Regions from separate parts of the Homo sapiens genome. Here regions 1, 2, 4, 5 and 6 are each linked to region 3. The links come from fine-mapping of genetic effects on gene expression. A gene starts in region 3. Each other region holds a variant in brackets. All regions are shown on one strand. Distances are from middle to middle. Region 1 overlaps SLCO3A1 (solute carrier organic anion transporter family member 3A1). Region 2 overlaps SLCO3A1 (solute carrier organic anion transporter family member 3A1). Region 3 holds the start of SLCO3A1 (solute carrier organic anion transporter family member 3A1). Region 4 overlaps SLCO3A1 (solute carrier organic anion transporter family member 3A1). Region 5 overlaps SLCO3A1 (solute carrier organic anion transporter family member 3A1). Region 6 overlaps CRAT37 (cervical cancer-associated transcript 37).

Region 1 (5,073 bases), 170 kb before region 3:
CCAGGATGAAATTTTGTTATTTTGTAAAGTTCTTTTCTCTTGGTATTCATCTAAGAAAAGCATCAATTCATAATCTCAAGGCCATGAAAGGAGGGTAAAAAAAGACCAAACTGTGTCTAACACGTAGCTTTTGAAAACCAACTAACCCTTTGGGGCATTTTGTGGGATAAAACACACAGAAAGAATCAACAGGAGGATCGCATTCAATTTTAAGCCAAACTTTGCTATGCTATGGTAGGAACGTGGGCAGAGCCCGTGTTCAAGATAAATGCCCAATCCCCTTTGGGACTCCTATCACCAACTGTTACGAAAATGTAGCCGAGGACATTTTATTAGAGTAATAATGCAACGGTTGAAGCCAGACTGAGCCGGCAGGCTGCAATTCTTAGCAGCTCCGAGGTAATTGACCTGTGGCCTTTTGGTTCACAGACTCTTCACCTGAGCCAAGAAGGTGCCTGATTGAATCATAGATCTTTTATCTCTCATAACGTGAGACGGAAGAGTTCTATTAAAAATGTATGAAGCCAAGTGAGCAGGCCTCAGCTGCACTGGGAGCCCAGATCCTGGGGCCAGAGGCCATTCACCTTTCCTTTTGACAAAATCTTATGAAATAATTCATTTACACAGTGTCAGCGCGACTACATATATGTGTTTGGGAAAAAAAAAATACAAGGAGGGGAAAAAAAACAGTCAAAAATGTACTTTTTCCCTGGGTTGTAGGAAAATGATTCTTATTTTCCTGCTTAGCCTTTATTGTGTTTCCAAATTTTCTACAGAGAATATGTATTTCTTTATGAGAAAACAAACATTTTTCAAAAACAAATGTTCACATGAGTCTTTGCCCAGGCACTGACTACGTTTAAGTAGGTAAAAGATGCGGAACGGAGAGTTTATATATGGACACCTACCAAGCCTGGGAATAGTCTCTGGTTGGGTCCAGTGCAAACATCTTTAATCCCCAGAGCAAAGGGGTCCTGCCGCTCATGCCCACTCCAGGGCAGGAGCCTGGCTGGGAAGGCAAAACAATCCCTGATAGCTGTTCCCATCGCCAGGGACAAATCCTAAATTTGGCAACCTCAGGAAGTGAACAAGTTTCCTTTTTTTCCCCCAGGGTCAGAGACCTGGCATAGAAGTATAAGAGGCTGCGGAGTTTTTAAATAAACATTTTCCTCCCCAAGAAAGCCATCCAGTAATTATAGCAAACTTTCCCAGAAGAGATTCCATTTACCGCCTCTCTTTTAAGAAATTACTTGGCAACAGGATGTAATTTAATTAAAGTATTTACTTAAATGTATGTCCTCTGGGGCCTGAAGGAAACAGGACATTTTTCTAATCAACTGGCAGTTTTGGGGGTTGTTTGACCATGGGTCAGGGGTTTTCTCATGTACGTACACACACACACACACACACACACACACACACACACTTGTGCCTGCAGCTGAAACAAGAACGTCAAGATCTCCTAACTGATACGCCAGCAAAAAGCAAAACACTCTCATTTCCAGATCCTACAAAAATTCTTGGGAATGCCAAACTTCTGGCATTCTCCACTTGGCTTCGGATCTAATGGAAAAACCCCTAATTGCAGCATCTTCTCCACAAAAATCAGAAGCAGTGATTTTATTGTGGAACAAAATCTACTTTGCTTTTTAAACCCAAGTCCTGATCATTCTAGCTTAAAACGATTATATTTGGGCTGTCTGAATATTGCATTAGGTCCCAAATCCTGATTGGATTGGCTGGGCTCTGGGTTAGACTGTCTCTCAGATCTGAGGGCTGGAATTTGTGTCTTTTCTCTCCTCATCTTTTCTCTCTGTATTTCATTAAAAATGTATCCCCAGGGCCTAGAACACTGGCTGTCTAGTGCTGTCGGCGTTCAATAAACATCTGTAGAAAAAATACTTTTGCTGAGTGAAGCATGGTGGCGAACATCCTGCAAATGTTGAGGGGCAGGAGCCGGAGCTATTCCTGGGGTCAGCAAAGGCCAGGGTGGGGGGCAGATTTTGGTGCTGTGGCTTCCCGAGGATGCTAATGGGAACCTGGAGGCCTCGGATTTGGACTCAACCATCCCCTGGCTGGGGACTTCAACGGACTTGTGGAAATTCCCAGGAGGCCCCCAGCCATTCTGGTACCATCATCACCTGACATACGACCGACCAGCCTCCCCCACTGTGTGCTGCCCTCTCTTCCTCCACAAGAGACTCTGGTCTTTGTTTCCCACATGGTGCTCAGAGGCACCCAGTATAAACAGCAGCACATAAGCAGAGTGATGGGTTTTGTGCCCACTGCTAAGTCTCGGCAGAAATTCTAGGGAAGATTCTCAACATGGTTTGTGCAGATTGAGCCGAACGCTGTGATCAGAGGAGTCAGTGCAGGCTCTTAACTGCCCACATCCTTGTCTCAAACTCTGCTCCTAAGCTTCCTCTTGCACATTCGTGCCTTACCTGAAAACTAAAATAAACTAAAAACCAAGCTGCAGACTTGTGCACTTTGCAATGGCAGTCGAGGTTTCTGTCCACGGGTGTGACAGATTATTTTACGCGGTCCTGTTTTCATGATCTATTCCTCCAGCCTGTGCAAACTGCTTCGTTTATGTGGTAAGTGTGTCTTTGTGTTTTCGTTAGGGACATGGATAAAAATGTTGAACGGCACAAAGCAAAAGGCACAGTCTTGTGGCACTCCACACCAGGGGTCTTTCCAGACCAATGTCAATCCTTTAATGCATGCGTCGGGAGCAAACTGTGCAGCTTACAGAAGTCCTTAGAGAGCACTGCGGTGCTGTGGCCAAAGCACGGGTGAAGACGACAGAGAAACCAGGATGAGACTCCTCTTTGCTGCTGCTGGCTGTGTGACCTTGGGCAAGTTGCTAAATCTCTGAGCCTATTTGCTCATCCACAATATCGAAAAAAACGATGACGGTACCTTCGTCAAATGGTGAATTTGAGATTTATGTGGGACAACGTATGTAAAGGCATTAGCCTGTGTCTTACACAAAGTTTATCTCTCAACAAATAAAGCAATGTGGTGTTGTTTAGAAAGTTCACAAGGATATTAAAAGAACGTTTGTTCTACATCTCCAGGAAATCACGTATTTAGCATTTATTGTCACAATAC[C/T]GACCCTATCAAAAATGTAATGCATTATTTGGCTTTGCTTCTTTTTAGAGAGCTCATGACAACTCCCAGAGATCTTCTATCAAAGCTCACCATCTGTTTAATAATGTACCCCCCCTTTTTTTTTTTTTTTGGAGACAAAGTCTCACTCTGTCACCCAGGCTGAAGTGCAATGGCACGATCTTGGCTCACTGCAACCTCCACCTCCTGGGTTCAAGTGATTCTCCTGTCTCAGCCTCCCAAGTAGCTGGGATTACAGGCGTGCACCACCACACCAAGCTAGTTTATTGTATTTTTAGTAGAGATGGGGTTTCACCATGTTGGCCAGGCTGGTCTTGAACTCCTGACCTCAAGTGATCCACCTGCCTTGGCCTCCGAAAATGCTGGGATTACAGGTGTGAGCCACTGTGCCCGGCCATAATCTATGCTAGACATTTGGTGGGAATGTTGTTACACTCTCTCATGAATTGTCCATTGTTTTCAGAATCCATCTTTACCAGTGTAATGAAAACCATGACGGTCATGGCCACCTCCTTTGTACATGTCTCTTTCCTTGTCCTGCATAGCTTTTTAAAATAAATAACTGGTTACAGACCTATGAACTCACATCAAATTCTCTGAAGAAAACGGAAAGCAGAAATCATAGAACCCTTAGGGACCCCTAGACTATTTTTTTTCTTTTTAATTACTGTGGACTCTAGCTGCTTTGTAAACCTGTTTGTCCCACACTTTCCATTTTAAGGCATTCTACTCAGTAGGAAAAATAAAAATAAAACAGAAGCTGATGAGTTCTACTTGCTCTCAGGTATTTGTTAAACATACCACCACCTGCTCTCGTCACTTCTGTCTCCTTAGTGAGAAACTTCTTATAGGCTGTGGAGGAACAGTCCATTAGACAAGGAACACACACCTGCCTTCTCCATTCTTTCCTTCACTTTGCAGATAGGAAAGCCAAGGCTCTTGTTTCTTGCCAAATCTAGTAGTCAAATTGGGAGGTCACACCCAAGACTGCAGTTCCTCTGCTTGCCTTTCCTAACGACAGTTAAGGAGTTACCGGATGGAGAAACAGAGACCCATCCCTACACTTGGTGACTGGTGGTGGACAAGGGCATGGACACGGGCTTGGACACGTGCAGGGTAAAGAACTGCACCAAAGCCTCCCTGCTGCACACAGAGCAGAGCTCTCAGGGATGCGCTGACCTGGGGCAAAAGAAACAGGCCAAAGGACTGAGATATGTAAACAATCAGTGCCAACAGCAGATCACTCTAGCTCAATAAAATGTCTTTACAAGGTAATTAGCAGTTCATAAAATCTGTTAAGTAACTTAGAAACCCGTGTACCACTCTTCCAGCATCTCCACTGCTAAAGGACCCTTGGGAAACATTAACTCTTACTGCCATGCATCACGCGGCATCAGCAAGGTAGATGGCAGCCACTCACGGCCGGGAGAATTCAAAACACTTCCTTCTGCCTTTGCTGACTGAGAAGAGAGTCCCAGATCATCCCAGTTTAACACTAAACTCATAGAGACAGCTACGGGAATGGTTGGGGAAGGAAAAGAATTGATCATAGCCTCATGTCCAGCCTCAGTTTGCTCACATGTGGAATAGGATATACCTGCCTTGTAGAGTTGTCACAAATCAGAAAGCAAGAATGGAAAGTGCCTGGCCCAGAGCCTAGCATTCTCCAAAACAACAAGTGGATGCCACTGATATGTTTGCTAGCCACAGTAGCAGCAGCAGCAGTAGTAGTAGTGGTAGCAGCAGCAGCAGCAAGAGCAGCAGCATTAGTGTCATCGCTGTTGCTGCAATTAGCTTTTGTGCCTATGGTGTCCCCCATACATTTCTCTCAAGAACCCTATGAAGTATCATCCACAGCCTTAAAATAAGAACTTAAAATTTAGGAGGGATTGGCTTGGCTTACCTTTGAGCCTGTATCCTTAAGTGCTTCTTGGCTTCTTG
Region 2 (5,073 bases), 63 kb before region 3:
TGACTAGACTCCCAAAGAATGGATTCTCCGACCTCAGTAGGGGCCCAGTGGTCTCCACTGCCACTGCGCCCATGTAGTCACTCTAGGAACAAAGAGTGCCACGTGCCACCCACGGGTCACCGTCTGGCTGCACTGTGAGTCCGGGTGCCGCATGATGCCGCAGTGAAAGCCTGCCAGCAGAGCCGAGTCCCCATTCATCCAGTTTTGTCCCCTGGTAATGAGCTCCCTTGGCTCCCTCCCACACTGGAAAGGACGGGCTGAAGAATGGTGCCAGCCAGAGGAGCCCCTTGTGAATAGCCCATCCAGGAATCCAGGAATCTGGCAGCGGCTCAGCCACAAGAGGCCAAAGCAAGTAAGTCATTTCAGTGGAAAATATCGGCTTGATTCAAGATGGAATGCTTCACTTTGCCCTGGGTTGTAGTGGAAGCTACGACACGGCCACCGATGTACAAACAGCACCCATCTAGTGACCCACAATGCGGGTGACCCGGGGCAGGTGTCATCACCACTGATCTGCAGCCTGAGCTGTGCATGTTGATCATTCTGTTCCCTGCTGACACCCAAAGGGAAGGCTCAGCTCAAGAACAAGCTGGTGTTTTACACATGCCATATTTAGAATCCTTTCAATCTCCACTATAGTGTCACGATTTAGGCATATGACCAGACAATTGGTTGTGGGCCCCTCTCTAGACCAACTCTGCAGGAGCTGGAACCAGGGGTACACATGTTATTCCTCCCCGATGGATATACAGTTACACCTACAGTCCCAGCATCAGTCCCTTGAGACTTTCCTCCTCTTCAGGGAGTTAAGAGGCCAGAATTTTATATCAATCCTGTTCAGTGGGCTACCCCAAATACTGTGAAGTAAAGTTAAGTGGCTTCAGGAACTAGTGCCATATTAGAGGAGATAAACTCTGAAATATTCTCACTACCACAAACACTTTTTTTATAGCTCATACAATAAATAAATGAACCAGTTATACTCTGCATATGCTATGATCTTAAATTATACCTGGAGAATAAACCACATATGGAATAAAAGGCCCCCTATTGAGGCCAATCTATGCAAAAGACTTGTCCTCTCCTGATCCCGATAAACACAAACCCATGTAAACCAGTGCAGAGAAACCCAGAACTATCATCTCCATGGCATGGGCTACGATGTTTTGGAATCTGGCCATATGTAACAGAGCCACCAAGATGTTCGTATGTCATGCAAAGAGACACTCCCCCAACTCAGACTTATCACAGAGGAATGGGGTGACCAAATAGAAATTTGGCTGAATAGTTCTTCCTACCAAAGACTCAATGCAAATCCCACAGACAAGGCCTCAGAATTCAAGAAGGCCTTCTGCCTCAAATGATCAGCCCTACTGTCCACGCCTCCACCTCCCACACCCCCATGTCCCAAACCAAAGTGCTTCCTCACCATAAAGCTTTTGGCACATTCAAACCAACCCTCACCCAGTGTGGGGAAACAGCACAGCTTAACTCATCAGGAGACACTTCCAGAAGAGGGTTCAGTGACTACGGCTGGAAGCCCCAGGCAGAAGTGATACAGCACTGTTAGGACTTCAGGGGTGACTCTGGGGAGAAATTTTTCTACTTGATTCTATCAGCAGAGACAACAATTCAGGTTTTCACTCCCCATTTCATTCCCTGTGCTCTGATTGATCTACTTCCTGTTATTCCTACCAGAAAACAACTCTCCCAGAGCCCTAGGGTGACATCAGTCAAGTCAGAGGGTGGACCTCAGGAGACCTTTGTGGCTACATGCTGTAGTCCATGATCTGGTGTGCAAAAAACTCACGTGGAGCGGCTTTCACTCAAGACTTAAGGCAATGAAAGAAAAATGATTACCTTAGTTTCCCTTCCTCCACCATAACCACTCTCAGGTAATAATGGAAACCCCTAACCATCTCTGGCCTGAGCCGTTTTCTCTTCCCCTTTGTTCCATAGGTAGCTGGTGACTAGGCTCACTGGTGCTCCATCCTCTGAATGGAGAGGCGCATTCCTTCCATCTTTCCTGCCCAGAGCCTGCTCACAGCCAGCCAGAACATCCGCGTGCAACATCCGTGTTCAGTAAACGCGTCTACTCCAAAGCTGGGCCAGAAAGACACAGAGAAAAATCTGCATTTCGGTGTGTCCTGCTTCCAAACCATCCTATCTCAGCAAGCTTGAAGCCTGGCAGATAGGAACCTTTATGTCAAATCCAGTTCAAATTCTATTTTCACTTAAAACTCCATAATATAATTAACTTTCTACCTCAAGGCACATTGCTTTTGGGAGGCATAAAGCTTCCCTGGGTAGAGGTAATGTTTTCAAAGCTTAGCACTCAGTGACTGGGGATGTCAGAAAAATCCAGCAGCTGGCAGGAGACAGAATTATACTTTGTAAACAAGGGATAGAGATGCGGGGCTGGCCAGCCCTCACCTTGCACGCTGCCATCCAACAGAGCCCACCGCAGCCACTGAAAACACTGCCCGCCACGTAATAAACAACTTGCCACTCAGATGATTCTTAACCCCCACGCACAAGTGGTTTCCATCCTTCCAGTATAAAACATCAGAAACTCTGACCGTGAAAAATAACTTTTCAAAACACAAATACCTTATTTCTCTCTACATACCCAATTCCCATGCATACTTCCATTATTGAAAAAATTACCGGAAGTCACCAACTTCGAATGATGCCAAATGCTGGCAAAGCCATCACCTCTCCTTTTGAGCTGCAACAGGACAATGACCAGGACATCATTCTGATTCTTCAAAGCTGGAGTTTCCAATGTGTAGACCCCAAGTATACCTTGGTGGCTAATATCAGAAAGCCCAAAGTCCACATACGCACTCAAAAAGAAGAGATAAACATACAACTCCTCCCGATCATGTTTTCCCACTGAAGCGGTGTTAGTGGTCTAGCCCCGTGGAGCTCAAATT[C/T]GGCCGCTCACAAGAATCACCTGGGAACTTTTAAAAACGTCTCAATGCCCAGGTTGCACCCCCAGGCATGAGTATTTTTCAAGAACACTAGGTGTGCAGCCAAGTCTGAGAACCAGTACTCTGGCAAAATCAAAGTCCACCAGGCCACCTTTTATCCATGGTCAACACACCCTGGTCTCTTGCTAATACGGCTGGGGCAGCTCCTACCTATATAGAGCGAGGAGTCCTTCCTCCGCACGTGGTCGTCGATGTAGGAGACGCCCAGGGGCTGCACAGGGGTAGCACCGATGCCCAGGAGCACCTGGGCCCCAATGAGCAGCAAGTACATCATGTTGGTAGCCGTCCGGTTGCGGCAGATGAGGTCGGGGTCGGGCCCCTCGTCGCCGCCCGAGCCGTTGGCTGCGCAGACGTCGCGGCCCTCGGCGCCCCAGCGGATCTCGCCCGCCTCGTACTTGTACTGGTGGGTCAGGAACTCGGGCAGCGCCGACAGCAGCGCGCCCAGCGCCATGACGATGCCGCCGCAGCCGATCAGGCGCGGCCGGTGCCCGCGTGCCCCGAAGTAGCTCACGAAGAGGATGAGCGCCAGGTTCCCGATCTCGAAGCTGCTAGCGATCACACCCACGTCAGCGCTCTGCAGGTTGAACCTACGCTCCAGGGTGGTCAGGACGCTCACCTGAGGGGGGCAAGAAGAAAGGTCAGAGCCAATCCAAGAAGATGCCCAGGAAGCCTCTCCTTCCCGCCTGACAGTGCGCTCTGCCCATCCCCCCCGGGACCCTCCCACCTGGCCTCCGGTGCCAGGTGCAAAAAGGCAGCTGTGTAAATGCCTTTTAACCTGACGAATCAGAAAGACGTTTATTTAGTATCATAACCCTAATTCAGTTAACGAATTCACTTTCCCAGTAGCAACAATGTTTTTTCTGGCACCTGTTTCCATCCTGAAAGCTTCTACCCTCTTCCGGAAACACTGCATTCCCCACCCCCACAGACCTCCACCACAGACAGCCCATGAAAACCTATAAAAGTCCTGAAGTGCGCGGTTTGCACACACTCCCAAATATATACTAGGGATAAAGTCCATGCCAGGAAGACAGAGGAGCCAGGAGATTTTCCGCAGGAGGTTAGCAAAGCCTATCCCCCACCTCAAAATAAAAACAAACTTAACAAAACCCAAGTGGCAAAATGCACAAGCTAAATCAGCCCAGCGGGGTAATCATTTGCTCTTTGCTTCCGTCTGGAAATTTCCAGTGTACATTTCCCCAGAGGCCATCAGGTAAATACACCCCTGACTGTTCTAAGCACTATGACCCTGCCAAGTACCCTCCAACTGAATATTATGATTTCCCCCGTTTTTTTGTATTCTTGTCTGCCCTATGTTTGTTAAACATATACCGAACATCTGCTGCTTGCCAGGCAATGCCCTAGACACAAGAGAAAAGTGATGGAGAGAGGACATCTGGCCTGAAGAAGCCATCTAGCAAGAAGGTAAACATGTACCTAAGAATAACACAAAGGGACTGGAGGTGAGATGTGTGATGCAGACCTCACACCAAGGGGGCCATGAGGAGATGCATTCTTACAGGGCTTCTTAAAGTGGTAAGAAAATGAGATGGCTACCCTCTGCTGCTGTGTGCAAATTCCACGCAGGGTGCTGTGAGCAAGACAAGAGTCCTTGTCATGGGAGATCTGACAGCTGAATGATGTCCTCGCTGAGTAGGGAAGAACATTTCAGGCAAAAGGAACAGCATGAGCCAAAGATAGGTGGCATGATTTCATCATGGAAGAGAAAATAGCTGGGGCCGGGAGCAGTGGCTCACACCTGTAATCCCAACACTTTGGGAGGCCGAGGTGGGCAGGTCACTTGAGGCCAGGAGTTCGAGACCAGCCTGGCCAACATGGCAAAACCCCTTCTCTACTAAAAATACACAATTTAGCGAGGCGTGGTGGTGCATACCTATAATCCCAGCTACTCAGGGAAGGCTGAGGCAGGAGAATTGCTTGAACCCTGGAGGCGGCGGTTGCAGTGAGCTGAGATCACACCACTGCACTCCAGTTTGGGCAACAGAGCGAGACCTTGCTTCCAAAAAAAAAAAAAAAAAAAGGAAGAAAATAGTTGGAAAGGTGGGGTGAGGACAAATTG
Region 3 (5,073 bases):
CCTCAAGTATCTGGAAATGCCTCATTAGAGAGGCAGGCTGATTGCCAAGGTAAGGATCACGTATAACGCACACTTAGCACGTGGACCCTGCCCTGTGGTCCCCTACAGACACAAGGTCTCAGGTTTCCTAAGAAAGCCATGATGAATTAAAAGGAAGAAATGTGCCTTTCCTGCAAACAGCCTGCAATATTTCATTCTCCAATTATCCACAGAGAAGTCTCGCATGGCTGAAGGAGCAAACTTTTTTTCCCCATCTCCCAAATAACAGATGAAGAGAAAACTCTGAAGTGGCCCAGAAGAGCAAAGCCCATAGCAAGCTGCGTCAGTCAACCCTGACAAGCCAACTATTTATTTTCATGAGGCTCCGATGGCAAGGCAAAGACGAGGGCAGCCGGGCAAAGCAGAGCCCTTAGAGCCTTATGCCTCCACTCCTAGTAATCAAAATGAATTCAATTTCCTAGGCCTGTCCTCTCCTGGGCCTCCAGCTGCTTTCTGCAAGTCACCTGTTGACTCCTGTTACCCTACCCCACCCAACCAGGCTTTCCATCAGCGAAGGCTAGAAGTGCCAGGATGCCGCCACCAGGTGGACCGAATTCCTCCTCTGCTTGCCATTCCCCTGTTCTGGGATTAAAGTCAACCTCCTATCTCCTGGGGCCAGCCCTGCCTCCAGAAGTCCACCACTCCAGGAGTACTCGGCTTCTTAACTTTCTAAAGGAGCTAGGCCATTCATCTAGTTGCAGCCCAGCTTCATTTATTTGTCAAATCCTTAGATCACTGCAACCGAAAAATAGTAAGCCCACGCTTTTATCACTCCTGGGGTGAAAAGTTCTGCGGGTGTTTGCCACACATGAATAATGCACTCTACCGAGCAAAATTGGTTTGAGGCAAACAAACCGTTAAAGTGGAGGCAGCTGTTGATATACTAATTACCTCCTTCTAAACATAGACCCGGTTAGGTATTATGTACTTTGCATATGTCACAGTACAGACCCACATATATTTTATTAATGTGAATTTGCATCTCTGTAATACATGTACTTATTTAAATATTTTAACAGTTAAATTTCCCCTAAGGAAGTGCCGATAAACTGACTCCCAAAACACAATTATCCCCTATCCCTCAAATTCCAAGGGCTAATAGGTACTGTCTGCAACTGCATATTATAACTATAGACACAATAAGTGTATTTTATAGAACAGAAAACAAGGTATGCTTTTGACTACAGGGTTCACTTGCAGTCTACAAGTTACGAATGCACAAGACAGAGACCGGGATGTAAACGCTTTTCGTCTCAGAATGAGCAACAGAAATGTATTTGATTTTCAAAAGCCCTGAAATTCTGTCACCCCAGGAACAGAGCTGAGTTTGAAGACCCCCTCTCTCACAACCACCTAACTTCCTCAACACCGGAGACCAAGCACTGCTTGTATTTCCCTTTAACAGTGAGCCCTGAGCCTTAAGAGATAGTTTATGAATGGTATACAGCCCCCAGCGTCTGGCCCTCATGAACTTTACCCCAAGGCCAGGAATGAGGGATTAATCATAGCATCAGGATACGCGTGGTTCTATCTCTGGATGTGGTTATTCAATGGCCAAAATCTTGTCCAATTCTATCTCCATCAAACTTGCTCAGGAATACTCAAAGTCTATGACATTTGATTCCAGTTGCGGGTCAATAGCCAAGTAATGATTTAACACTATAAACTCTCAAAAAAAATTTCCCGTTTAGACAGGACTGTACTTAGGTGTGGAAGCACGCTCTCTGGAACTCAAGTTGCGACCACCTGAGCAGAGGAGGCGAAAGCGACAAAGTAGGTACCTGACAGTGCTGAGTCATTACAAGCTGTTTCCTCTGAAATGTTACGCACCCATGGGCCCTCTGAGCATTAACATCCCCTTTCTGGAGGCAAATAAAATACATATTCATTGTGGAAAATGGTGCAACCTTCTGTAGGCGACAGACCACGATGGGGAATTTAGCACTAAGAGTGGATAGCAGGAACTACACAAACTCGCAGCTGCTCTCTAGGTACCGTAACTTTATCCCAGACGCTCAAAGAGGGCTATAGGGATACCGGGTGGCAATATTCCCCCTGCAGCCCCGGCTCAGGCCAGGGCCACACTAGGGCGCATTTCACTCTAAGCTGTTATATCCCCCTGTAATTGGCGGATGTAGAAAGCGCCCGGAGAAAATGATGCATAATAGATTTGTTCTCGAGGAGGATGCAATGGAGAGTAGAGGACGCAGGATGCTAACTGGTTTTTCTTCCCATGTGCAGGTCACCTGAAAACCCCGACGCTTTTTCGTTCCTCTCCAAGGAGAACCCTGAACTCACCGTCTCGCTCCGCTCTTATGGGGGGAGAGGAATAGTTTCACGCCCACCTGCCCGCCGCCTCTCCTCCCCCGGCACCCCCTGCCCCAGCCGGACGCGCGCGAGCTGCTACCGGCATCAACGGTCCCGCCCGCTACCCGCTCGCTGGCAGCCCCGGCCGGCAGCTCCCCCGGCGGCCGCCTCTGCACCACTCGCCAACCTCCACGCCGGGCCGAGGTCATGCCCGCCTGCCCCCAGCGCCGGGCGGCCCCCTCGTCGGGCCAGGCGGCCGCTCGAGAGCCGGGCTGGGGAAGGGGCCCGCGGCGGAGTTGGCTCGGGGACTCACCAGGTAGGCGCCCACCGTGCCCTGCGCCAGCATCAGGGCGCACTCGGACACCAGGAAGATCTTGATGTTGGAAAAGCAGGACACCTTCTTTTTCTTTTTCTTGTTCCTCTGCGCCTCGTCCCCCTGCAGCTCGCCGCTCCGGCCGCCGCCCGACGAACCGCCCGGCTTCTTCCCCTGCATCCTTCCCCCGCCGCCGCCGCCGCCGCCGCCGCTGCCGCTTTCCCGCTCGCCCCGGGTGTCGGGGCCGCTGCCGGGCGGGGGTGCGCGCCTCGAGGCTGCGTGCTGTCCCCGCCCCGGGTTCGCGGCGGCCGCCCCCGTCCTGCCGGGGCTGGAGAGGTGGAAGGCACAGCTCCTCGCCGCCGCCGCCGCCGCCGCGATCGCCCCTTCCTCCTCCTCCTCCCCCGCCTCCGCCCTCCCCTGGCCTCCTCCTCCGGCTCCGGCTGTGCCAATCACAGGGGCTCGTCGCGCCGCCCGCCGCCGCCGCTGCCTCGCCTCCCGCGGCCGCCCGCCGCTGCCATCGCCCGGTTCCCCTTGCCCGCCGGCCGCGCCTGCTCTCACCCCCTCAGCCCCAGCCCCAAGGCCTGGGCCTGGGCCGCCGCTGCGCGCCCTCGCCGAGCCGCTCCTCGCTGCCGGTGCGCCCCCGGGGAGGCACGGGAGGCGGGCTTGGGATGCGGAGGGCGGCCCGGCGGCCGAGGCTGGGAGGGTCCGGCTGCCGGGAGAACTGGGGAGACCCGGAGTCCTTGCGGAGTAAGGGGGGTGCCCCTGAGGGCGGGAGGCGGCGCCCGGCCCCTAGGTGGCGCTGCGGGGCACGGGGCCCCGCGGCGGAGACTGGCGGCTCTGCGCCGGGCGCGGAGATGGGGTGCGGAGGCGCCCCCGCGGGGCTGGGACCCGGCGCTCGGGAACCCGGGTGCCCAGGCCTCAGAGGGCAGGCTGTTCCCAGGAAGGGAGAATACTGAGTACCCAGGAAGGGCTTGGCGCGCGCTCTTCTCCGCCCGGGGATTTCTGGGGACAGATGTTGTGCTCTGGGTCTTGGGGAGGTGCCAGAGGTCAGAGCTGCTTGAGGCTTCTGCCGCCTGCCGGTTTCTGCCCCAGCTGTCCCCGGCCACAGGGGGTGTTGAAAAGGCCCCAGACCGAAAGGACAGAAAGGGGAAGTTAGAGGAATACGTCGGGAGCCCCACGGACCGTTAGTGCCCCAGCCTCGGTGTCCAGGCGCTGCAAGATCGCCGCGGCCCCAGCAGAGGGCCTTCTCCGGCCCTTCATCCGCCCAGGGCCCCGCTGCTGGAGCGCTCAGCAAGCGGCCAGCCGCAGGCCTGCTGGGTCCCCACCCGTCCCCTGGCTCTGTGGCCCTGGCCACCATCCTCGGCCTTGACCTGAATGCCTGGCCCATGGCAGCCGCTCCTAATTACTCCCCACTCTCACCGTTACCAAGGAGTGTGGGCCACAGGGCACTACCAATAGGATCTGCTAGTTCTCAACTGCAGCGTTTGGAAGCTGAGAGAAAAGCTCAGAGGGCTGGACAGGTACCAGGAAACAGCACCTTCCACCTGGGCCATTGGGGGACTCAAGGAATCATTTAAAACGGTTTCCTTAATAATTGTGTCAAAGAAAATGACCCACTCTCCCAAGCGCCTGTGTCCAAATGCAGGCTCAACTTCAAAACTGAATAGCAATGAACCCGACCATATTTTTCCTTTCTCCCGAAGAACTTGAATGAGAATGGAGGGTGTAATGGTGGGGATGTTGTTTTGCCATGGCATTTAAATATAAACTGCTTCATCCTTCTGTGGCTCCAGACGTGATCTCACCCAGGCTTGGTGTCGCTTTGAGATGCCCTCACCTTGTCTAGGCCACCTCCTATCTGAATTGGCTCCCCCCACACTTGAAGTCTCTTCCCGTCTTCCCCACTTCCTGAATCAGTGGTCACACCATTCCCGGCCAGTCCTATAATGAGAATCCTTACTGCCCCCTTCTTTCTTCCCCACACCCTCCTATCACTCGGAGCCAACTTCTCTGCAGGATCTTTATGTCCCCCTCTTTCCCTCCCCATCACTTTGCTTCATGGGCTACCTCCCCACTTCCTCCTGAGAAGACCCTTGACAAGCTAGCTCTGTTCCCTGCCTCTGTGACGGTAAGCTGCAAAGCTGAGCTGAGACTTGTCTACGAATGGTGACCCCATTGCTAATGAAATGTGCGGAGTGCTTTATAGTCTTCAACTCTTATTTACATTCTTTGTAATAACAAGAGCTAATGTTTACTGTGTGCTTATTATGGCCAGACACCATTCTCAGTGCTTCACCCGCATTTACAACGTAATCCTCACAGCAATCCTCTAAACCAGATACTATTATTAGCCTTGTTTTACAGATGAGACAACTGAGGCCTAGAAAGGTTAACCTGACCAGTGTCACTTGTCT
Region 4 (5,073 bases), 310 kb before region 3:
TCTAACCTAAGGGGGAACGGTCCCTAAAAGGAAACATGGATCATGGTTGAGAGGAGGTCAATCAGAGGAGAATGGCGTGAGCCCAGTGGAGCCAGCAGGCCCCTGCCATGTGTCTGGTACTTTCCTCTGGCTTCTGGCCAGATATGTGGTTCTCCCAAGCCATCAAGATAGTCAGGTAAGAATAGCACCAGGCAGCGGGAAGTATTCTCCATCTGTTAGACTGAAAAAACTGCATGGTTTCTTCCCTCATCTAAACCAAATCAAATAAAATATTCAAGCAACAATAAAATATAGCGTAACTCCGTCCAACTGCAACAGAAGCTCATCCTGTTTTTCTGGTCTTGACTGTATGATCAGATGCATTGACCTCTATGCACTGACCTTCATAGCTTGCCACTGCTGAGTAGGGCCTTTGGAGTTCCTAGCAGGGCTTAGAGCAGACTGCACAGGTCTGGCAGGCATGGCTGGGTGGAGAAGAAACCAGACTTCCTAGGACCGGAAGCAGCAGGCGGCAAGAAAACCAGCCCAGCAGGCACACGGGGACCCAGAAACTACTTTTCCTTGGAGGTTTTTCTATTTTAGTACATGTATCTATCTCCATTTTAAATGTTCCTCAGTGAATGACCTCCTCTGGAAGGTGTGAAAGAATATCCATTAGCAACCACAGGAGAATCTTTTTCCTGGGAAAATTCCTCAAGAGTGGTGTGACTACCATCCCAGGGACCAGCTGGTTGCCCTTGTGTGGAACGTTTCTGCAGGCTTTTTGACTGTAAGGGCTGGGAAGCCCTGCCATAGTGTGAGTGAGGGGAAGCTGGAGGGCAATTACTGGACACAGGGCAGTGGAATCGGGGGACTGGAATGTACAGATGACACTCAACCAATCTTTAAAAGTCAGCACTAGAGCGAGTTATTCCATGATCAGATGGTGAGAAGGAAGTGATTTTTATGGAGGGGCACGCTCCCTCCTGCTAGGAAGACGTTAGCAACCCTGTCAAATGATTCCTTAGGAGCTCCTGGCTTTCCAGTTATTATTTTGCCTGTTAAGTGTTCCTAGCAAGCTCCTCGGGGGGACCGTGAGAGGAGGCTGCTTCCACTCCTTCGCTAGCTGTGAGGAAAGCCCGCATGCCATGCTGTGGCCTTCTGGAGCCCTGTCCCCCAGGGTGCCTCAGAGCCAGCGTTCCCTGAGAGCACACAGCCTCAGCTGAGAGAAGACAGCAAACCCTGTCCCCTAGAGAGGCATTTTTGCAAAATGTGCTTACTTCATAGGAGGGAATGATATTGGTAGAAAAACAAAACAAAACAAAACAAAAAACAAAACAAAACCCAAACCTTCTTTGTCTCTACGTAGGAGTTACAAAGATCTGTCAATTTCAGCAGAGAGAGACTTTTCATCCACCCTGGGCATGTTCAGCTGAGATGGTGTAGGAGTTTGTAGCAGAAGAGAGAGAACTCTAGCATTCACTTTCTAGGTTTATTCCATCCCGTACATTTTTGTATTCTGTAAATCCAATGATCTTACCAGGAAATCTTTTCATTCACTTGAAACCAAACAGATAATCGAGGGGCTGGATCTAGTGTTGTATGTACAATGCTTCTTTAGAGCACAAAAGGCAAATTAAAACTAGACTGAGTTTTCTGTTCGGTACTATATGAGAATAATTAAAATTTTAAAAGACGACACAACAGAATTCAGAGCCATCCTGCAACAGCGGTCTTTAAATTTATACCCAATTGCTGATAAAACTCAGCCCTGGAGTTGTCTTCCTGTTATTCTAACATCTTTTTCACATTCATCCTAAAATCTTAGGAAAAAAAATCCAAAATGCAAAGAGTTTAAAAAACTTTCTTTTTTTTTTCTCTCAAAGCAAATAGTTCCATAAAACACTAGGTCAAAGGGCCTCAGTGTGTGTGTACTGAGTTTGAAGGGCCAAGCAATAATCTATAAGAGTGACCTATTAGCAATATATTTGCAAAACTAAACCAAAATCTGTACAGGATATTATCAAAGCCTTAGGAACAACAGAACATACATATTTTATG[A/G]AGTGGTTGGAGAACCATCTCCCCTTTAGTAGTTAACGTACTGATGAGTGTCCCCATTTTCATAAGCAAGGACATACTAACACTAAGCAGTTGAAAGGCCTGTCTCAGAAGCATCCTGCCCCAGGTAGCTGATCACGGTGGCCCCATACCACGACACAGCTTTTCTTTTGGTTGGTCTTGCTGAGTGCCTTCTCTAGATTTGGGCTGTCATTCAAGCCTCTTCATTTACAATGTTCATTAAAAATTCGGTACCATACCTGTCCCACTCCCAACCATTTTTTACTTCCTGATTCTTTTGTTTGCCTTGTGGGTAAAATGCAAATGTGTCCAAGGTGAAAAAGCAAACCAATCAACCTTTGAGTTTTTTTTCCAGCGCCAGGAATGTGACATGAACAAAGGTCACTGAAGCAGCATGAGGAGTAAGTTAGCAGGGCCCTTTGTTGTGTGTGTATGAGTGTGTGCCTTTACCTAAGCTCTGTCCCCTTACAGAAATGGCCGTAGAAGGCCTAGTGTGCTGGTTGCGAGAGGTTTTCCAACGTGATTCTTACCCCAAATCATAACAGGTTCATTCTCTGAGGTTCACCCACCTTCAAAACACACAGACAAGGGCCTTAGTTCAAGACTAACACTGAAAATGTCACAGACATTTTCACGCATTGGACACACGACAGCTTCCAGGAGCTTGTGGGTCTATTCGTTATCAGAGATGCTACAGACTTCTTAACAGCTTGTGTTAGGGAACTGTTCTTCTTTCCTATCCCCGGAAGTGTTGCACCCATACACACAAACCCACATCTAAGAGTGTCTCCTCCACAGGCTGAAAAGAACGCCTCTTGGAATGTCAAGCATGAATATAAAAGGGTTTCCCGTGACAGTGATCACTGAATCATGGGGAAGGAAGCTAAAAGGCAAATTTGCAATTCATCACATTATCCCCTGTTGTCTCAAATGTGATTCTTTTAAAGGCAGGCTGCATATACACTCTCTTTTTGAAGCATTTTTTTTTCTTCTTGTAACACATTGTATATTCTTGTTTTTGTAGAATATTCGAATGAGGATAAAATGATGAAAATTACAATAGGTTAATTGCATCCCTTGTATCACATATTTTTGGTGCATTAAAAAAGGAGAAAAAAAGTAAAAGCAACCAGCATAATAAATCCGGCCTAGAGAACTGTGTTAGTGACTTGAAGGGTTAACACAGATTTTAGAAGTAGTTAAAAATAGTATTAGAGGATTATACATACAACAGTTTGAAATTCATATGGATTGTATTTTTTTCTTTTAAAAATGGCAAAATGTTTTTGGCAAATGTAAGCAAATGACTTGGACTGCGTTGGGTCTCACCAGCTCTGAGCCGGGTCAGTCATAGCCAGGCGAGGCCTACTGCTTCCTGAGGTCACTCTGTGGGGCTGGGGGAAGGTGGATGCCCGCCACTGGGAGGTGCTGGCCCCCCACCTGGCTCCCCCTCAGGCCCTCAGTCTTGAACATGGAAATGGAGCTGGTGAGAGGTGCCAATTACAAACTCCAGCACGGATCACCCATTAGCATCACTGAGAGAACTCTGGGGCCTTGAACCACATGCAGACTGGGTGAGTCGTCTACACAGTGACCCATATTGCGAAAGTCAGAGAGAGGAGTGGTGCTTCCACCCCTCCGACTTGTGCGCCCGCCCCCACCCCCACCTGGAGGAAGAGGGTGGCACGGGGTGTGTCACTAGTGCTTAATCTGGCAATGTTTTCAACTTGTGGGTTTTTTTTTTTTAATTTTTTTTATTTTAGGAAACTTCTTTTAAAAAATGTTTTCTGTTTTGTATGTGTATGTGTATCCAGAAATGTCCATCCTCCAAGCTGGCCACCACTGTTCCCTGAATTTGGCAGTGCCTGTTGCTTGCAGCTGTCAGCATCCTGAAAACCATGAGGTGCCTTCAAAGTAGACTCTGTGGCCCAGCCGCGCAAGTGGCCTCCAGGACCCTGCCGCACGATGTCATTCTCTCCTTATTCTGAATCCTGTCTGGCTCTGATGCTGAGAAAAAGGACAAAGTCGGTGTGTCTGTCTGCGTGTGTGTGCATCTGTGCCTGTGTGTGTGTACTGAGTTTTGGTTTTTTTTGGAACCTTTTTTTCTTTTTTTAAGAAAAAAATGACCCTTGGATTACTAATACAGAGTTCAGCCCTCCTTTAGTCACTATAAAACGGACTCCATGTTTTCACACCACTCATGGTCTTCCAGGTTATAGATAAACTTTGTCCTATGTGTCTGGTTTGCGGGCACAGGGTCCCTCCCCAGGTTGTCTAGGGTCAGAGTAGAGGCAAAGAACTCACTGGTGCTCAGCCCGCCCTCGTGGTTTTTGATGTAGCGTTTATAGTTTTTCCTCAGGCACTGCCACGTGGTGGTGTACAGGATGAAGGCGAAGGATTTGAGCGCGATGGCGATGCTGACATACAGGTATCGGTAGACCACATTGTCGTAGAGGACGCAGGCGCCTTGCTCCCCACAGAACGTGCTCCAGAACAGGCAGGTGGAGTCGATGCCAGCCCCGAAGATGAGGGGTGGAGGGATGAAGCCTGTTACCGGGAAAAGAATGTTAAGGTTCTGGATCTGGTGGCCAGTGCTCCCCTGTTCCTGTCTCTGCCTAGCTTTTCTTATAGCACTGCTAGGCAAATATGTCTGACTCCGTGGCTCAAAGACATGCTCAGGAGGCAAAGCGCATGAGTTTGTGTCCCAGTTCTGCCTTTTTATTATGGTACAAATCTGAGCAAGTTATTTAAGCCCTCCTGCCTTAGTTTCCTCATCTGCAAAATGGGGATGATGATAATACTACAGTCTTCACCAGATGGCTGTGAAGACTAACTTTACACATAGAAAGCATCAGTCTGGCATGGTGGCTCACACCTGTAATTCCAGCACTTTGGGAGGCTGAAGCAGGTGGATCACCTGAGATCAGGAGTTTGAGACCAGCCTGGCCAACATGGTGAAACCCCGTCTCTACTAAAGAGACAACCTGGAATTTGCACTGTGGTACATGTTGGTGC
Region 5 (5,073 bases), 94 kb before region 3:
CCAGAGGGTAAGGGAACAGGGGATGGGAGAGGATTGCTAATGGAGTTTCTTCTGGGGATGATGAAATGTTGTAGAATTAGATAATGGTGATGGTTGTACTGCCTTGTTAATATACTAAAAACCACAGGACTTTACAATTTAAAAGGGTGAATTTTGTGGTATGTGAATTCTATCTCAATAAAATCATGTACATTTAAGTCTGTTACCTCATTCTTACCTCAAAGCCACATCACCCCCAGGGAACTGTGGGAACTGACTTTACTAAGAGAATACACACAATAGCTTCAGCTCACCTGTCAAATGAAGTGAAAGCCAGAGAAATACTTTTTTTTTTTTCTTTCTTTCTCAGATTGGATATAAGCCACCTGTTGGTGGAGTAAAGGGTGGCTCCCTGGCTGTGGTTCCCAAGAAGTCTCTGTCATCAAATTACTAAAGGCAGAATTAGCATTGCACATACCATAAAATTAAGCATTGCCAAAGACTTTCAACAACACATCAGCCCTCACCCCAAAAAGCAATGACTTGGGACAAGAGCAATCAGACTGGTTGTGAAATACAGAACCAAATGAAGTCAGACAACATGTACATTAAATAAACAGCGGGAAGATGCAGTGCATGAGAAATTGAAGAGAAATTAGGTAAGAACTAGGAACCTCATTCTTAGGAGGCTAGAAAGACCGGATGACATTATGGAGCCTGCAGCAAAAAAACAAAGGATCACACACCCATGTGGGGTGCGCCTGCCATACTGCACAACGTTCCCCTGCAGGGGCTCATCTGCCCTTCCTAATAACCCACCGGGACCCTTGGGGATTAGAGACCCCATTTGGTCAAGGCCTGGGATCAATGGCCAGTGACAGGGCTGGGCTCCCCCTGCCTGCCCAGCCAGGGCCCCTGTCCCACGTGCAACACGACTGGCTGTCTTCACCCACCACTGCAGACTGATCTCTGCTTCCCCAGCCCCCTGCAATCCCCTCCACAATACACACACCCGAATCTCTGGCCACAGCAGGCAGCCCTGAGCATGCAGACTCCATACCATCAGGCCTCCCTACCTCATTCCAGCTGCTTCCTCTGCCTGTTACAACTTTCTTCCCCAGGGGCAGCTTCAATCTGCCTTTCTCCTAAAAACCTCCCTTGTCAGGACTAATTTTTCCTCCTCTACATTTCCACAGCAGGGCATTTATCTCTTCCGTATAGAATCCATCACAGTCTGCCTTCTTTTCGTTGTTGTTTTTTAGAGACAGGGTCTGGTTCTGTTGCTCAGGCTGGAGTGCAGTAGCACCATGAGGGCTCACTGCAACCTCAATCTCCCAGGCTCAGGTGATCCTCCTGCCTCAGCCTCCCGAGTAGCTGGAAACACAGGTGTGCAGCACCACGCTCAGCTTGCTTGCTTGCTTATTTATTTATTTATTAAAGCCGGGGTCTCACTATATTGTTCAGGCTGGTCTTGAACTCCAGGCCTCAAGCGATCCTCCTGCCTTGACCTCCCAAGTAGCTGGGACTACAAGCTCATCTGCCTTCTATATTAAAGGCAACCACCAACACACTTTCATAGGGCTTCACAGCTGCCCAGAACCACGCTGGCAATTCACCTACAGTTACTCTTCTTTTGGGGGGACAGAGTCTCACTCTGTCGCCCAGGCTGAAGTGCAGTGGCACGATCTCAACTCATTGCAAACTCCACCTCCCGGGTTGAAGTGTGTCTTGTGCCTCAGCCTCCGGAGTAGCTAGGATTACAGGTACATACCACCACGCTTGGCTAATTTTTATATTTTTAGTAGGGATGGGGTTTCGCCATGTTGACCAGGCTGGTCTCAAACTCCTGGCCTCAAGCGATTTGCCTGTCTCAGCCTCCCAAAGTGCTGGGATTACAGTATAGTTACTCTTTTACTCCTCACAACTGCCCTCCGCATGGGTACTACCCTTATCCCCACTAACAGATGAGAAACCTAGTGCCGGATCATGCAGCCAGGAAATGGTGGAGCCAGGATTTGAACCCAGGTAGACAGTCTGGTCCTATTGGTCACATCCTTCCCCCCAGCGCCAGTCTCTATGCCAATTTGGGTGTGTGTCAGAGTTATCTGTGTGCAGAAGCAGCTGCACACAGTCTAGCCTTTTTGATGCACCCACCCCAACCACACCTAGATACCTGCATGCAGAGGGTCAGCACTCAGTAAGGACATCAGAACTGCATAAATACTCAAGGATAACAATGACATCTGCCAGAGGGCAGGGAAGTTTACACCAGGGATAAAAATGGAGGGAATGATTCCCCCAAAAGGTGAGGTAAGCAGAAATAATAGTAAAAAAAAAAAAACCAAAGTATTGATTCCTAAATGGATGACAGGTTCCTCAGGTTATTAAAGGAATTGAGGATGGA[T/C]GGTGCTCTGCAGGCTCTGAGACACTTGGCAAGGAGGCTGGCACATGCCACCCAGAATATCTTTGGGGTCATTAGTCAGGATACAGGACCCAAAGGACCCTGACTTCCAACTTTACATCCCAGACTGACTTTCCACTTCCTGTGCCATGGCTCTCCTATTCCTTGGACGGCCCTCTCTTCTCAGGGCAGGAAAACCCAGCCCTCATGTCTGTAAACACAGGGCACCAGAGAGTGGCCCATGCAGGCATCCCTGATTAATTGCCTGTACTGTTTTGAAAGTTTTTCAGCCTTCCTGCAGAGTCTCGTGCACATTCGGCCCTCTCCTGACTTGCACTTCCTTGGGAGAACACTTAGATTAGAAAATCCCCAAATTCCTAACCAATGACTGCTGCTTTCCACCCAGGTGGTGCTGTGTGCATGCCGGCACTCCTACAGAGCCTGTAGGCTTATCTGCAGGAATAGGATGCTGTGGCTGGCACCACACATGCGGCCACTTCTAAACTTGGCAACAGCTCGAGCTCTGGAAGCCCTTCTAGGACAGCTCAAATGCACCTCCCAGGAGCACTACGCAGGGTCACATTTGAGCCCACTGTGGAGGGACCAGCTGGTTGTATTCTCATGCGCCAAGCAGGAGTGGAAAAAGCTTCCCGGAGGTCGGCATTCATTAGCCGCATGGCACTGAAACAAAGGGCAGGTAACAAAGGGCCAGGGCTTCCACCCACTTTCTGGCTCAGACTTTTATTAGGGTGTGGAAAGCTGAGCAAGGAATGCAGAAGTCAATCTCTATTTTATCTCCATTCGTCTATCTGTCATCTGAATTCTGCTTCTGCTCCCACGGCCCTGCTGGAACACCTAGTTGGGAGGATAAACAATTCTCACATGGAACTGGAAAAGCCCCTGCTAACTGGGCTGCAGTCACTTTCGGTCACCTGCACGGGGGCCAAAGGGGAATTGCCAGCAGCTGTGTGTCAATAAGAGCCCCAGGATCCAAGACAGCACTCTGCAGTGTACAGACCGACCCAGGGTCCCAAAGTCACCTGGCTGCTAGGGCCAAGCAGGGGGTACTAACGAGGAAAGCAGTCTGGGAGGGCAATGGGGCCATCGGAGCAACCTGCCCCGTCTAGCTGCTGCACAGACGCTTCTGGCTTCAGCTATTATTGCTCCAGGAGAAGCCTAGATCCAGAGTGAATGTCGGGAACTAACTCACATTTTTAATAAACACTCAAGTGGGTTAAACAAGTGACAAAGGCCGAAGGCAACGATCTGTCGGCCCTATCTATAGTCTACTTCCTGCCCACAATGACCAGGCTCCTAGTGTCATCATCTCAAGACCTAGAAGGATTTAAGAGCTCTCCTCACCCCACAAAAACACTCCAGAGCAGAGAAAAAAGGGAAGAAGGAGTATAGCTTGTCCAGGCAACAAAGCACCACCTGAGTGAGAAGCTAAAAGACACTAACTCTGCCAGCGGCAACCAGACCAAGAGCACGGGAGCTTGTTCGGGAAAGGCCTGAGGATTCCCACAATTTCACAGAATTGGAATTCACAAGCTGAATTTCAAAGATAAGCTGCTTTTCCTATGTCATCGTCACCATATGCCACAGAGCCTCGGAAAAGACGGTCCTCGACAAGGAGGGGTCGTATGATTAGAGGTGCACCCAGGAGGGAGGTCCCAGAAGGGGCAAGCATGGATATTTCAAAGAGCGAAGCTTCCTTTGCCCTGTTGATCTGCCCTCCACAGCCCTCTCAAGGCCAGGGAAGGAAATACACAGGGCCAAAGGCCAAAATAACATCCTGTGGTCACTCGGGACCCGATGACAGGAGCTTGCTTTGTGCTGCTTTAAGGGGTATGACTGGGGATGGAAGAGTCCTCCGTGAGCACCATTGACTCATCCTGTCTTGGACTCATGGACACATTTGATTATAAACTTCTTCCAGCAGCACGCACGGCAGGTCCCCACCTTTGCCATTCCACAATGGCAGGTTCCGTTGGCTAGAAGAATGTTTGCAGAAGGACGCCGACCTGCCCTTCCTCGGAGGGGAATTTTGGTAACTCCAGTCATTTGCTCTTACCCCTTGGCCTTTAAGCATTATGACAACTAAACTGGGAACTGGGGGTTCTGACAGCATGCTTCCTTTTTCATGTAACTGCATCATAGACATATTTAGGAAAAATGAAACAGTATAATCCTCCCAAGTCCTTCTCCTTAAGTGCATTGCACACTCAACCCATACTACGAAGTCCTATTTTTTCACTTGGTTCTCTACCACATGCATTCCAAAGTTACAGAATATTCTTCTGACCACTACCTAATATTTGGGAAATATTCCATCATTTTCATATAACATAACTGACTGAACCATTTCCCTACATACTGGCCACTTTCAAATCTCTCCTGTTTGCCATAAACTCTGAAGGATGTTTCTGTCTACCAGGGCCCGGAGTGCTCCTCACTGGTTCTTGGCACTGCCTGGAACACAGGGTATCTGGGAATCAATGGAAGGTAACACGATCAGATTCACAGGCTGCCCAGGGCTGATCTCACTGGTGAGAGTGTAGGTTAAAAATCAAAGACGTGCAGCCTGGCTCCCTGCCACTGACCAGCTGGGTGACACCAGCTGAGTGGCTCAACCTCTCCGCAGAGAAGACGCTGCCCTAATTATCTCTAAGTCTTCTCAGCACTTGCATTAC
Region 6 (5,073 bases), 380 kb after region 3:
GGTAGGAAAGGACCAGATTGCGATGGGCCTTCTTTCAGGCCCTTAGGGTTTATTTTCTTGATGGCAAATTTGCAAAGGTTGTATTTGCTTGATGGTGCTTAGGTTTGTAATGCTGGAGTTATGGCTGCAAGACCTCTTTTCATACTGAAATTCCTTTGGGAAAAGTCATTTGTATTTGCAAGTCTGCAACTGCATCCCAACCCTTGTTCTTTACCAAAACTTTTGTTATAAATGTCACAGTTGTGGAGTTTATTAGGAGTGGAACCCTCACCATAGACCAGGATAAACTGTGCTGTGCACAGTTATTTTAGGACCAAGTAAGCCGAGCTGCATGCTGGTTGTTACACCACCAGACTGTGAGCCTAAGAGCAGAAACTGTTTCATAAATTGATCATTGAATTGTAGGCATGAAGCCTGATGCCTGGTACATAGTAGCTGATCAACAATTAGCATAAAATATATTAGGGAGTTTGCCAATTCTGTTGCATGTGATAATTATTCCATTTCAGTACAGCTGTTTACTTTTATTAATTTTAAATATACTGTATACCAGCAATGTTCTAGAAATCATTTTAGGTAACCACTCTACTTTCAAGAAAAGCATGTAAAACATAAAGCATGATCCCTATAGTATTAATCTCACCCATGCCTTCTGTCTCCTGCTTACACAGAAATTTCCGTTCATTAAGACTACAGGGCTCCCCGTGGGAGAGTTTATGCTGACAACTAAGATTTTAGAATCCAATAAAAGAGATAACAATCTCAAATGAAACTAAAAAACTGTACAAATGAAAACACATATTTAAAAAGTAGCTTGAATGACCACTTAGAACAGGGGCCCGTGCAGCCCAGGCTTGGACTGGAGTCACTCTCGCAGACCAGCCATGAAAAATATTAACACATGGCCAGACATGTCTCCCATTTTCAGGTGAATCTGAAAGGGGATGCAATGAATAACCACAGCAGTGCCTCTCACTACTCTCTTCCCCTTGCCTCTTCCTCCCCATCTTTGTCTCCTGGCTCAGTGACCCCAAGGTTTCCCCACCCCTTTTCCCATGATCTCCCCAAATCCCCCCCCAGCCCACCAGTGCCTTGTTTTTGGCCTCTTGCAGCTTTCTTCCCATCTTTATTGTTTTTCCCCACAGATAATTTCTGTTCTTTCCAAAGCAACGCTCACCCTCACATTTCCAGTTTTGTCTTTACCTCCCCATTGCTCCAGTTACTGCAGCCAGAGTCCAGACACCAGACTGTGAGGCCCAGCATCTAAGGTGGCAGCTGCAGAGGGCCCCTGGCTTGAGGTCCAAGCAGGATTCTCTTCATTGTGCAGAGAAGAGGTAAAGATAACAAACACTTGTCATAGAAAACATTTTCCTTTAGCCCTATCACCTATGCAGAGCTGTTTTACTTGCTGAAACTGTCCCAATATCTATTGGAAGAAAATTTTTTAAAAAATTACCTTTTTAAAAAAATATTGTCACTCCTTAAAAGATGCTCTCCAAATAAGGCATAACTGTAATGAAATCCAAACACCAAAACTGATGTGAGACCAAATAAACATAGAGGCAGGGGGAATTCTGAGCCAAGAACAAGGAAGCTAAGAAAAGGAAAGGTGGTTGAAAATAAGGCCCGGAGGTCAGGGAGGCCCAGGTTCATATCCTGAACCCAGAACTTAACATGGGTGGGATTTGGGACTTGTCATGCAATAGTGCTAAAAGCCTCTGTGTCTTTGCTGTAAAAATAATAGAGTAATCTTAAACTGTTAAAGGCATGAAAGAGAAAGTGGTTAGCAAAGAGTTCAGTCCACACTAAGTGCTCCTTGAATGTTAGTTATTATGATGATCGTGTGTATTATACTCAAACCTCAACTCTAGGCCTGTTTATTTCCAGAACATCAGGTTTTGCA[T/C]GCATTAATGTTATAGAGTGTTTCGTATTTTTTGTGAGACCTTCAATTCTTATTTTAAAGTTTCTTATTTTTCCCCATTGTTTTATGCTTAGATATCATAGCTTATTCTACAATGTATTCTTGGAGTTTTCTATAAGCCTTAAAACAACTGAGATGATTTCAAGTTGCCATCTAGCGGAATACCATATATGAGGTTATTGTCATATGAGCACATACATCCACACACACACACACAAACACTTAGGTACATATGTGTGTATGTGTGTGTATTCTTTAAGCCTTAGTTTGCATTATTAAGTCACCAGCTTCCAGCCAGTTCTCTGACAGTGTCATCACGACAGACAGGCTGAGCTAAGTCCTTTCTAAGGGTGTGCTGGAGGATTTCATATACATTTTTCTATTTATAAAACACTAGTGAAACAATAAGCTATACTCCAGGCAGCCTGAGGAAGTCTTATGAAATTGTTATGATTTGTTTGTGAGATAGAGGACAAATTCCATGGTAATCTTCACCGAATTTTAATAAGGGTGAAAGGAAGACTTAATTAAGGAGTTCTTTGTGGCTTTTTTAAAAAAAAAAAACACAGCCTCTGCAAGCACTTCCCCATGGCGTCTTATCGCTATAGTACAGACACAGTTGCATCTTTATCGTGTGCGGCAGGGGCTGAGGCACAGAGACACATAAAAATAATGGCAATGCATTTATTTTTAAGGACACAACACTGTCTGCTTTTCTTTCAGGCATCCAACTTCTGTGCTTAGATGTCAGTTCCTGTGTTGAAGCATGGGTCCTATCTAACCAGTTTTCTGAGAATCACGGCCATTGCACTTTATAGTAGTTTCCAGAGGATAAATTTTTCTAACTGCGGTTAGGGCGGGGTTGTAAAATAGCATATTTTTGTTTTAAAAATTCGAATGGGGCCTAAAGAGTATTTAAGAGAGTTTAACTCCTGTTGCGACTTCTTCAGCTACTTACCCCTTGGTTGCAACCAGTATAAAAGCTGTGCAACTTGGATGTTCAATGACAAGAACTTGGTTTTAAAAAATTAGGGTACATCCCAGCCGGGCGCGGTGGCTCACACCTGTAATCCCAGCACTTTGGGAGGCCGAGGTGGGCGGATCACGTGGTCAGGAGATCGAGACCATCCTGGCTAACACAGTGAAACCCCGTCTCTACTAAAAATACAAAAAAAAATTAGCCGGGCGTGGTGGCGGGCGCCTGTAGTCCCAGCTACTCCAGAGGCTGAGGCAGGAGAATGGCGTGAACCCGGGAGGCGGAGACTGCAGTAAGCCGAGATCGCGCCACTGCACTCCAGCCTGGGCAACAAAGCGAGACTCCGTCTCAAAAAAAAAAAAAAAAAAAAAAAATTAGGGTACATCCATATGAAGGGATGTTTGCCTTTTTTGTGCAATTTTGAAAAGTGATCTTGGAGAAGAATGTATATTACCATGAAAATAAGTCCACTAAGTGAAAAGAAAAAAAAAAATACAAAGCCACATGGACTACATGATCTAATTTTGCTTAAAACACAAATCAACAGAAGTGATGCGGAAATGTTAGTATTATGGGTGATTTTTACTTTCTTCTTATCTGCATATTTTGTATTATCTACAATGAAAAGGCATTCATTTTGTACTTATTACAAAAAAATCTTTAAAATGCAAGCTATGGTTGTGGTTGTAGAGAAGATGGATTCAAGACACACCACCCTGTCTCTCTCACTGAACGCACCTATAATGCTTGAATAGAATGCAAGAAAGAACTATCTGATGACTGTAACACATGGATGATAACAGGTGGATGGAGAAAGAGAACAGACTTTGAAGTCTGCCTGAACCAGTGGTGAGTTTACCATTTTTTCCCTTCAGTATCATCCATCCTGAAATCAAAGGCATCCTGAAGCCCAGAAATCCACACCAAGTGTGGACAGAAAGGCCACAGGGAGAAGACTTCTCTTGTTCTTGTCTCCCACAGCGATGCCCAAGCAACACTCCAGTGGCACTGGCAGCAGCATTGACAGCAATGACAGCAGTCGTGCACCTAAAACTCTGAGGAAAGGGAACTCTTCTCCCTTATCAAAAAGAACTGTGGTCCTTTGAATTTTCAGTGGATACACATTGCTATATGTGTTTTGCCTCTGTCTCCTCCTGTCACTTGGTCCTAGACGTAGGCACAGTTGCAGTAAGTTTGCATGATATTGGGGAAAATAGAACTCTAGATTTCTAGCCAGAGAACTGAGAAGAGAGGACGCAGGGAATAAGTGTACATTGGTGAAATCACAGAGAGGACAGGGATCAAGAGCGTGACGCCATAAAGTTGTGTATGAACTCCTGAGTGCGCCTCCTACCTGTGCATTTGTCAATCTGAACCTTATCAGCATATCACAGGCTTTGAGAATTGAGCTACGGGGCCACAGACTAGCCACTGGGACTGTTCTCAGCAACAGTGAAAATACTTTGAAAATGGAATTATGCCAGACTCAGAGAAGGCAGGTCAGAATTTGCAGACCAAATGTAATCAGGGTGATTGCATGCCAAAACAACAGCAACAAGAATTACAAAGTTAACATTCTCTTTAGCATTTAAATAAGACCCAGGGTCTCATCATGTCCAGAATATAATCCAAAATTAATTGGCATACAAATAATCAGGAATATCTCATCACAATAAAAAATATAATTAACAGACACCAACTCTAAGGTTACATAAAAGTTAGAGTTAACAGACTTCAAAGCAGCTATTATAACCATGTTCCCCAAATTAGATGGTCTAAACATAACAAATAATAGATTTAAAATGTCAGAATGATTAAAAATAAACCCAAATATATACAGGTACTCCCTTTAAGAAACCCTTTTTATATAGGTGGGTTAAAAGTGAAAGGAAGGACTAAGATATAAAATGTGTACATTAATCAAAAGAAAAGTGGAGTGTCTACATTAATATCAGATGAAGTAGATTTCAGAACAAGGAAAATTACCAGGGATAAACAGAACATAACATAATGGTAAAAGAGTCAATTCATCAAGAACTCCTAATAATCCTAAATGTATATGCACTTAACAACAAAGCCTCAAGCTAAGTGAAGCAAAAACCAATAGACCTGAAGGAAAAGAATGAAGCCACAGTTATAATGGAAGACTTCAACACTCCTTCTTCAGACATAAGTC

The links. PIP is the estimated chance that this variant, and not a neighbour inherited with it, causes the effect.
Region 1: its variant is fine-mapped to the expression of SLCO3A1 in tibial artery (GTEx, PIP 0.93).
Region 2: its variant is fine-mapped to the expression of SLCO3A1 in whole blood (INTERVAL, PIP above 0.99).
Region 4: its variant is fine-mapped to the expression of SLCO3A1 in monocytes (Fairfax 2014, PIP 0.95).
Region 5: its variant is fine-mapped to the expression of SLCO3A1 in whole blood (INTERVAL, PIP 0.97).
Region 6: its variant is fine-mapped to the expression of SLCO3A1 in whole blood (TOPMed, PIP above 0.99).

What each region holds. Positions count from the first base shown.
Region 1 is chr15:92,025,262-92,030,334 of GRCh38, reverse strand. All of the region lies in intron 2 of SLCO3A1 (solute carrier organic anion transporter family member 3A1), which reads right to left. Among named protein-coding and RNA genes, the nearest start is that of SLCO3A1, 170 kb to the right of the region's middle. The variant C/T (reference allele first, on the strand shown) is at 3,115.
Region 2 is chr15:91,914,529-91,919,601 of GRCh38, reverse strand. SLCO3A1 (solute carrier organic anion transporter family member 3A1) reads right to left here. Exons shown (of 10, transcript NM_013272.4): 2 at 3,144-3,609. Among named protein-coding and RNA genes, the nearest start is that of SLCO3A1, 63 kb to the right of the region's middle. The variant C/T (reference allele first, on the strand shown) is at 2,937.
Region 3 is chr15:91,851,675-91,856,747 of GRCh38, reverse strand. It overlaps SLCO3A1 (solute carrier organic anion transporter family member 3A1), which reads right to left and starts at 3,040. Exons shown (of 10, transcript NM_013272.4): 1 at 2,660-3,040. The coding sequence starts at 2,839. RefSeq lists silencers at 3,436-3,575, 3,444-3,618.
Region 4 is chr15:92,162,288-92,167,360 of GRCh38, reverse strand. SLCO3A1 (solute carrier organic anion transporter family member 3A1) reads right to left here. Exons shown (of 10, transcript NM_013272.4): 10 at 1,458-4,605. The coding sequence ends at 4,226. Among named protein-coding and RNA genes, the nearest start is that of ST8SIA2, 230 kb to the left of the region's middle. RefSeq lists an enhancer at 1,965-2,722. The variant A/G (reference allele first, on the strand shown) is at 2,041.
Region 5 is chr15:91,946,174-91,951,246 of GRCh38, reverse strand. All of the region lies in intron 2 of SLCO3A1 (solute carrier organic anion transporter family member 3A1), which reads right to left. Among named protein-coding and RNA genes, the nearest start is that of SLCO3A1, 95 kb to the right of the region's middle. RefSeq lists an enhancer at 296-1,168. The variant T/C (reference allele first, on the strand shown) is at 2,384.
Region 6 is chr15:91,476,259-91,481,331 of GRCh38, reverse strand. All of the region lies in intron 2 of CRAT37 (cervical cancer-associated transcript 37), which reads right to left. Among named protein-coding and RNA genes, the nearest start is that of CRAT37, 15 kb to the right of the region's middle. The variant T/C (reference allele first, on the strand shown) is at 1,904.